Linked DNA regions of Homo sapiens. The protein of the gene in region 1 purifies or fractionates together with the protein of each later gene. This does not show direct contact. Each region holds a gene or a part of one and is shown on either strand. Other genes may lie near its edges.

The links.
Region 2: the proteins of PSD (region 1) and GNAQ purify together in Homo sapiens (affinity purification with western blotting, with the first as the bait; one study listed by BioGRID). This does not show direct contact.

Annotation. Positions count from the first base shown.
Region 1 is NC_000010.11:102,415,735-102,420,153, reverse strand, and holds the start of PSD (PH and SEC7 domain-containing protein 1), read left to right. Parts: upstream 1-1,368; 5' UTR 1,369-1,453; intron 1,454-3,032; 5' UTR 3,033-3,115; coding exon 3,116-3,769; intron 3,770-4,034; coding exon 4,035-4,137; intron 4,138-4,419. UniProt on the Homo sapiens protein: Guanine nucleotide exchange factor for ARF6. Induces cytoskeletal remodeling.
Region 2 is NC_000009.12:78,025,000-78,028,811, forward strand, and holds part of GNAQ (guanine nucleotide-binding protein G(q) subunit alpha), read right to left. Parts: intron 1-3,812.

The DNA.
Region 1 (4,419 bases):
CTTCAGCTGGCTCATCACAACGAAAACCACTTCTCATCTGTTATCTCGTCAAGGCTTCGGGCACCTCTGAAAGGTGGGCAGGTCTATGCTATCAGTCCATTTTAAAGATGGGGAAACCGAGGCCCTGGAGAGGAAGCCCCTTGTCCAGAATCAAGCCAGACGGGAATAGAGAACCCAGACATCTGGTTTTCCCAGAATTCCTTCCACGTTTCCCCACCCCGCAAGGCAGCGAGAAGGGAGAAGCTAGCAGCGGGGAGAGACAAGAAAGGGGTCAAGTTAGGTGAGGGCTTGCTATCTCTTCTTCCTCAGCCTGCTTAGGGAGGGGGTAGCTGGGAGGACAGACCCCTGCAAAGATAGAGCCACGTGAGCGCGCACCACCTCCGGCCGCGCGCCTCGTCCCCCTCCCCTCTTTGTTCGCGCCTCTGCGCCTGCGCAGTGCGACAAATCTGGCGCTGTCCCCTTCAGCACCACGCGGAGTCCGCGCCGCCCCTCCCCGCGGTGAGCCCCGCGCGCCCCCGCCTCGCACGTCCTCGCGCCCCCTGACTGCCCGAACAGACCCCTTCTTCCTTCCGAGGTCACCATCTGCCCGCCCTGGCCCTCCCAAAGAGAGTAGTTGCCATAGTAACTCCAGCGGCTCTTTCTTAAAATAGCAGGGCCCCCTTCTACCCTGGCCAAGGGCACAAGGGTTGCCGGTCCCCCACGTCTTCCGGTCCCTAGTTCATCCCGTCTAACCTCTTACCCCTGGGCAGGCGTGACGACACCTAACTCAGGCAGCAAGGAAGTTCTTCCTGAAGTCTGATTTAACATCCCCCTGCTGCATCCTGGGAGGGTGGTCAGGGTTGGATCTCCTGGGTCCGAGACTCAAAACCCCTGGCGGGTTCAAGACGGTGTTCCCTAGATCTCCTTTCCATAGTTGATGGTCTCCTGGATTTAGGGGGCGGGTCCAGTCTACACCCATACCGTGTGCTTGGCGCGGCCGCGTGCTCGTGGGGGCGGGAGCGCGTGTGGCATGTAACAGGTCATGTGGCAGCCTCCTAGGGACACGCGTGGGGTCTGGAGCGGGACACGCGTGTGCAGCCGGGCCTTACGTGTGGCTCAAGGGGCGGTGGGCGAGAGAGACGTGGACACAAGTGGGGTGGGGCACGTGAGGGTCTGGGGAATAGAACCAGGGGTTCCATGCGCCCTCCTCCTTGTCTGGGGCGGGTCTTAGGTTGGCGGGAGAGCCCAGCGGGGACCTAGCGACAAGGGGGGCTGGCAGCCTCCGGGGCTCTGGGCCCTGGGAGAGGGCGGGGGGTGGGGGGGATTAGCGTTGCCTGAGCGGCGCGTAGGGGGTAGGGGGAGGGACTGAGAGGCGGGCGGGCCTGGAGCAAACGGGAGCCGCGCTGCCTTCACAGCTCAGCTGGGCCCAGCCTCTCCTCTGTCTCTCCTCGGTCTCAGCTCTGGGCGAGCAGCGGTGAGTACTGAGGTGGCATTGAGTTGGGGCTGCACCGGGTATGCGCTGGGACCCCGTTGAGCTTCCGGAACCTGCCTGGCAGGGTTGCTACTCCTGACCTCTGCCCCTCCCCTGCATTGCCACCAGAGGCCCCTTTACCTGGTTATGGTCTCTCCTGGGCGGGATCTGTCTTACCCCTGGGGAGAGAGGGAGAGGAGAGGAATATGGGTGCAGATTCCCCTCAAGAGACCCCAGTAGGTGGGGGGGAGGGGACGGTGTGTGTCCCTGCTTGAGTGTGTACATCTGTATGTGTACATCTGTATGTGTATGTGACTGTGAGCAGTAGGTCTCTGTGAGTGTCTGATACACCTGGACCTCTGTGTGCACTGGAGAATGACAGCTTGTGTATATATTTGGGTACCTCTTTGTGTGTTCCTGTTTGATGATGGTGTGTGTGTAAAACAAGCATGTGCCTTTTCATTACACACATACTTGTTATGACTGTGAGAGTGCATGAGGGTGTGTCTTTGAGCAGTGTGTGTGTGTGTGTGTCTGTGTGTGTGCCAGAGGGTGTTGCCTATGAATGTGTTTAACTGTGTACTGACATATTTGTCCTTATGTATGTGTGTGCGTGTGTGTGTGTGTGTGTGTGTGTGTGTGTTTGTGTGTGTGTAGGTGCCTGTCTGTACCTGTATGAAGAAAAGAATGTCCCTGGCCGGGTGCGGTGGCTCACGCCTGTAATCCCAACACTTTGGGAGGCCAAAGTGGGTGGATCCCCTGAGGTCAGGAGTTTGAAACTAGCCTGGACAACATGGTGAAACTCCATCTCTACTAAAAATACAAAAATTAGCCAGGCATAGTGCTGAGCGCCTGTAATCCAAGCTATTCAGGAGTCTGAGGCAGGAGAATCACTTGAACTTGGGAGGCGGAGGTTGCAGTGAGCTGAGATAGCGCCATTCCACTCCAGCCTGGGCAGCAGGGGCGAAACTCCATCTCAAAAAAAAAAAAAAAAAAGAAGAATGTCCCTTTCCCACTCAGTATGTATATATTGGGGGTAGGAGCCTCTGCTCAGGCTTTTCTCCCCACTTCCATGCTGTGCCTCTCAGCCCTTCAGCATCCCTATATAACACCTGTTCCTCTTCCCTCTCCTTCCAGGAGGCCTGAGTTTCCCTTCCCTGAGTGAGGGGCCTCCATAAGAGAGACTATAGGGGTCACAGGGCTGTATGATGGTGACAGCTGGCTGACACCCCTTTTCCAGAGGGTGGGGTACCAACTTCCCCTATTCTAGAAGTAGCTCCAAAGTGCCATAAGAACTCCGGGCTCACTCAACTTTGAAGTTGCTTCCTCTCTCCTCCCAGGGTGATGCTCAGGGCCTCAGGCAGAAGGAAAGGAGCCAGGGGCCCACTGGGTGTATAAGTCTTTTCTCGTCAGGCCTCTATGGAAGTAGTCCCCAGGCGTGGGATCAATGATCCCATATTACCAGGGTGTGCTAGGTCCCTGATACTCAGAGGCCCTAGCCAACTTTCCCTTCCCTATCTCTGCTGTCCTATCCATCTAACTCCTTGGCAGTTCACCCCATGCTCCCCTTCCTCTCTTACAGGCCTGTCTGAAGAGCATGCAGCCCCCTTACTCCCCGCCTGGCCTCGCCATCCCTGCCCCCCCAGCCTGACCCCCGGCCCCAGCATGGCCCAGGGTGCCATGCGCTTCTGCTCGGAAGGCGACTGTGCCATCTCCCCACCACGATGCCCACGCCGCTGGCTCCCCGAAGGCCCGGTGCCCCAGAGCCCCCCAGCCAGCATGTATGGCAGCACAGGCTCCTTGCTACGGCGAGTGGCAGGTCCAGGTCCTCGAGGCCGGGAACTGGGACGTGTGACAGCACCCTGTACACCTCTGCGTGGCCCCCCCTCACCCCGTGTTGCTCCCTCACCCTGGGCACCCTCTTCACCCACTGGGCAGCCCCCACCCGGGGCCCAGAGCTCTGTGGTCATCTTCCGCTTTGTGGAGAAGGCCAGTGTGAGGCCACTGAATGGGCTACCTGCTCCAGGGGGCTTGAGTCGGAGCTGGGATCTGGGTGGGGTTTCTCCTCCCAGGCCCACCCCAGCCCTTGGGCCTGGCTCCAACCGGAAGTTACGGCTGGAAGCATCCACATCAGACCCACTCCCCGCCAGAGGAGGCTCGGCCCTACCTGGCAGCCGGAACCTTGTACATGGGCCGCCAGCCCCACCCCAGGTTGGAGCAGATGGCCTTTACTCCTCTCTCCCCAATGGGCTGGGGGGCCCCCCTGAGCGCCTGGCCACACTCTTCGGAGGACCTGCTGACACTGGATTCCTGAACCAGGTATGCAACTTCCCCTGGGCTCCCTGGGCCCCCAGTGAAGGGGCAAGGCTCAGCCTCCTGTCAGACATGGGCTTGTCTGCTGTTCACTCTGAATCCTTTAATCTGTTCTAAATCTGCCTCTCTCTTGCCCTCTGTGTTTGTCTCTGTGTCTCTGAACCTCCATCTCTGTCGATGCATGTTTTAATTTCTGTTTCTGTCCCATATTCTTGTGTCCTTGTATGTCTGGCTTTATCTCTGGGTGCCTGTGTCTCCCTCGTTGGCTCAGGGGGATACCTGGTCCTCCCCCCGGGAAGTCTCCTCTCATGCCCAGAGAATCGCTAGAGCCAAATGGGAATTCTTCTATGGCTCCTTGGACCCCCCCAGCTCAGGTAAGGCCTGGGACTGAGGCAGGGAGAACAGGGCAGGGCCTTCCCCACAGCAGCTGAGGCTCAGTAGGGAGCCCTCCTTCAAACTTCCCCCAATCCTTGGAATTGGCTCTTGAGTCAGCCAATGTCTCCCCAGGCCTCAATCTTTCCATCTGCGCTATGATGGGAGGCTGGAGGATAGGACTGGGCAGGGCACCTGGAGGAAGCTGAGTAATGGAGGGAGGGGACAGAAGGATATTGAGGGGCATTCCATGGAGTAGAAAAGAGGCTCAGCAGGGCTCAGTG
Region 2 (3,812 bases), on another chromosome or scaffold:
CTATGTATAAAGGTTAACAACAGAGCTGTATAGTTAATCCAATTTGGGATTCTCGGCACTGCAACATGGACATTTATTTTTGTTTTTAAAGCCCAAATTCATGACCACCTAGGATGTGTTAACTCATTTCATCAGTATGCCTAGGTCCTTTTACTACATGTTAGATGAGAAATCAGACAGATTTTTACATATCGGTAATGTAACAAATCAAAGGTGATTGTTGAACAACTTCCTATAATTTTATTTTTTACATATCGGTAATGTAACAAATCAAAGGTGATTGTTGAACAACTTCCTATAATTTTATCAGTAACAGCTATTCACACAAAATAGTGTTTGGGTCTGAGAGCAGCTCTTTCTTTAATGTTACTCCATTCGGCAGAACAAGAGTAAACGTTCACGGTTTACTGTAGTCAGTTATTGCCACAGATTTAATTACCAACAATCGCACATTTTACCTTCTATTGCTATTTCACACTTCACTAGGATTAAGTCTGCAGAGATCTTAACATAACTTAAAAGGCATTACAAAAGTTTTCCTTTGAAAAATGTGACTGCCTCCCGTTCCAACCAGGAAATTTGACTTTAAAATTTGTTGCTTCACAAACTTGTATTTTCCTCAACCCAATACAGAGGAAACAGATTCCCTCCACCTTCTGAGGGAGAAAGCAATCCTAACCTCCTTATAAAATGGCTTCTGTCTCTTCCAAGATGTACCCTTTGAGCTCCCTATTTTCCCTCTACAACATCCAATCAACATTTCTACTAATATTAACAGAATATTAGTAGAATAACTCCCCTTAAAGAAAAATTAATATGAATGCTGGAATCAAAACCTTCCTTAGAGAATCTTGTTAATTTCTTTTCAAGTGTAAGTGTGCCTGGATCATAAAGAAAAATCTGTTCCTTTTTTCTGCTAAGTTTAGCATAGCACGCAGCCTCACAACTGCAAAGGCTGTTTCAGGTCCTAAAAAATTCATGGGTAATAAAAATCGTAACTGTTTTTAATAGGCACTTCTGAAAACTGAACATAAGCCATTTCTCCTAAAGTAGAGCTGAGATGGTTTTCTTTTTTAATGAAAAAGATTCTATCAAATTTATTTATATTAAAATGGCTACTAAATTAGTCTTCTGGTTCTCCTTTCTAAACTTACTTTAGAATATGTGAATAGATAAACCTGCAATATTTTCACTGTTCAGCAGGGTTTTAATTTGTGTCAGATTTGCCATATGAAGAAATAGCATATAGGGGTAAGGATGGGACATTATATGGAGATCCAGACGATGAATCTACGTAGTTCAATGCAAAAAACTTATTCCGAAGGCTTTGTTATACAGTCAGAGCCACAGTTTTGATTTTTATGAGGGATGTTCCCACTTTGTTCTTCTGATATAAACTATAAGTACTTTGTTTCAACAACAACAAAAAAGGGAACTGTATCCAAATAAATCCTGACATTCAGAAACATATTCAACACTTGGAAGCTAAAAGAGTAGCAAAAAATAAAACCTGTTGGTCCTTAAAGCAGTCTCATAAACACCATATTTTGCTATTTTTAGGGAGCTGCTGTTATTGAGGTTACTTAGACCAAGGCTTTCACTCAATGGTTCTGAGTCACCATCCTAGATGGCACTGACCTCTAGGTTAATTCAGGCAATCAACATACCCACTCCAGTGAACCCTACTGAGGAGCAGTGGGAAGCGTGCTCTTTTCCAGATGTGTAGAAATTAACTTCCCATACAGCTTAAATTGGCTACAGCACTTCCAGCCTTCCAAGCCCCTTCTTGGTCTAAAACTGTATAGCTTTCAGTACAAATGCATATCCTTCATATTAAAAATGTTCTAACTGCAATTCCTGAAATTCTGTATTTAATTATGGTGGTTTTCCTCACGTTATTGTATAAGTCAATCACAAACACCCATTTAGTCATCACCTGTGCTCTACAGAGTATTAAAAATTCACTGAGCCCTGTACCATGGAGAAAAATGTATGGTAAAAAGATGAGAGGGTTAAACTAGCCTCTACACAATAAAAAGTAATAAAAATATAGAATGGTTTTTCTTTTCTTTAAACTTTCATACTTTAAGCATGACTGTTACCATTCTCAAATACATCCAGTACAGAACTGTAATACACTGGTTCAATGTGTGATGCAACATCTTACATTAACACTTCCTATCCTGGAATGCATTTATAATCAGTTGGCTCAAAGAGTTACACACAATTTTTTTAAGATCCTGATTTTATCTGCCACAGATAAAAACATTATATATTCCTATGTTTCTATACATTTATTCATTATTGTCTGGTCTAATTTCCAGCAGGAGGGTAATAAATAAATTCATTTACTCAGCCAATATTTATTGAGAGCATTCTACGAGTTAGATACTGTGCTTGAAGCTGGGATTTAATAGTGAGCAAAACAGACACAACCTCTACTCTCATATGTTTGCAGTGTACAACAGGAAGAAAATCTGTGCTCATATATAAAATTCATTTCAGAAGACCAAGACCATTTAAGGTCTTCCATTTAAGACTGGCCTGTCGCGACCAGCCTGACTAACATGTTGAAACCCCAGCTCTACTAAATGCAAAAAAAATAGCCGGGCGTGGTGGTGCATGCCTGTAATCCAAGCTACCTGGGAGGCTGAGACAGGAGAATCGCTTGTACCTGGGAGGCGGAGGTTGCAGTGAAGTGAGGTCGCGCCATTGCACTCCAGCTTGGGCAACAAGAGCAAAACTCCATCTCAAAAAAAAAAAAAAAAAGACTGGCCTAAACTTTGCCTGTTTCAATAGCGATAATTCAATCAATTAAAGGGGTTTACTAAGTCTTCCTATTTGATAATTAAGATCTAAAGAGTAAAAGACTTCAAAAACGTGTAAAATAAGAACAGGTTAACAGGAAAAAAATGTTTCTTCTAGGAACTGAAAAAAATTTCAGGATAACTATATGTAACATGAAGCAGGCACTCAAGGCCACTTGTATTACACAGACTTACAAATTATATTAAATGAGGTTATCTATGTACCACCAACAGAAATATTTAGTGAATATTCATGAAAATTAATCAATTAAAGAAAATATGTGCTTTATACCTACAAAATATATAAAAACATTAACCAAGTTAAAATGAAGTATGCTCTTGTATATCTACATAGAATACAAAGAGTAAGTTTTGAGTGTCAAACACTAACATAAATGAATTCAAAGAATGAATAAGTTAAAAGACAACAAGAAAATAATTCAAAATTTAATGTAATATTCTTATAGTGGTAGATTTCAGGGTTCACGTTTCTAAAGTTAAAATAAAAATATATAATATATAAGCATACGGAATAAATTTGGAAGACTGGCATAGTTGCCGAATATAAATCAACATAGCCCAAATTTTACTGCCATACTTTCATCTAGTCAGGTACCCACTAATTGTCTTTTTAAATGTCTCCATATTATTAATACACAAAAGTAAATAATTACATGAGCAAATGCAAGGGTACCCACTTTTATCCCTGTCAAACAAATCCTCTTCCATTAAAATGGTATCAAGCCTTGAACTAAAATTTACTTTGAAAACAATTTTACATTGATTTTCATTTCAAAATACTTATTCCTCCATAAACTAGTTAAAAATATTAGTAGATCTTTAAACTGTGAATGGATACATCTTATAATCTCCTCTAGATAGGTTTGTTTAAATGATAGAAGGAACCAGAACATTCAGTGTACTCATCAAAGCAGCGAATCAGGAATTCCTCAAATGAAATCCCTCCCTAATATCTTCCTTGTTGAAATCAACCGTCCTGGATTC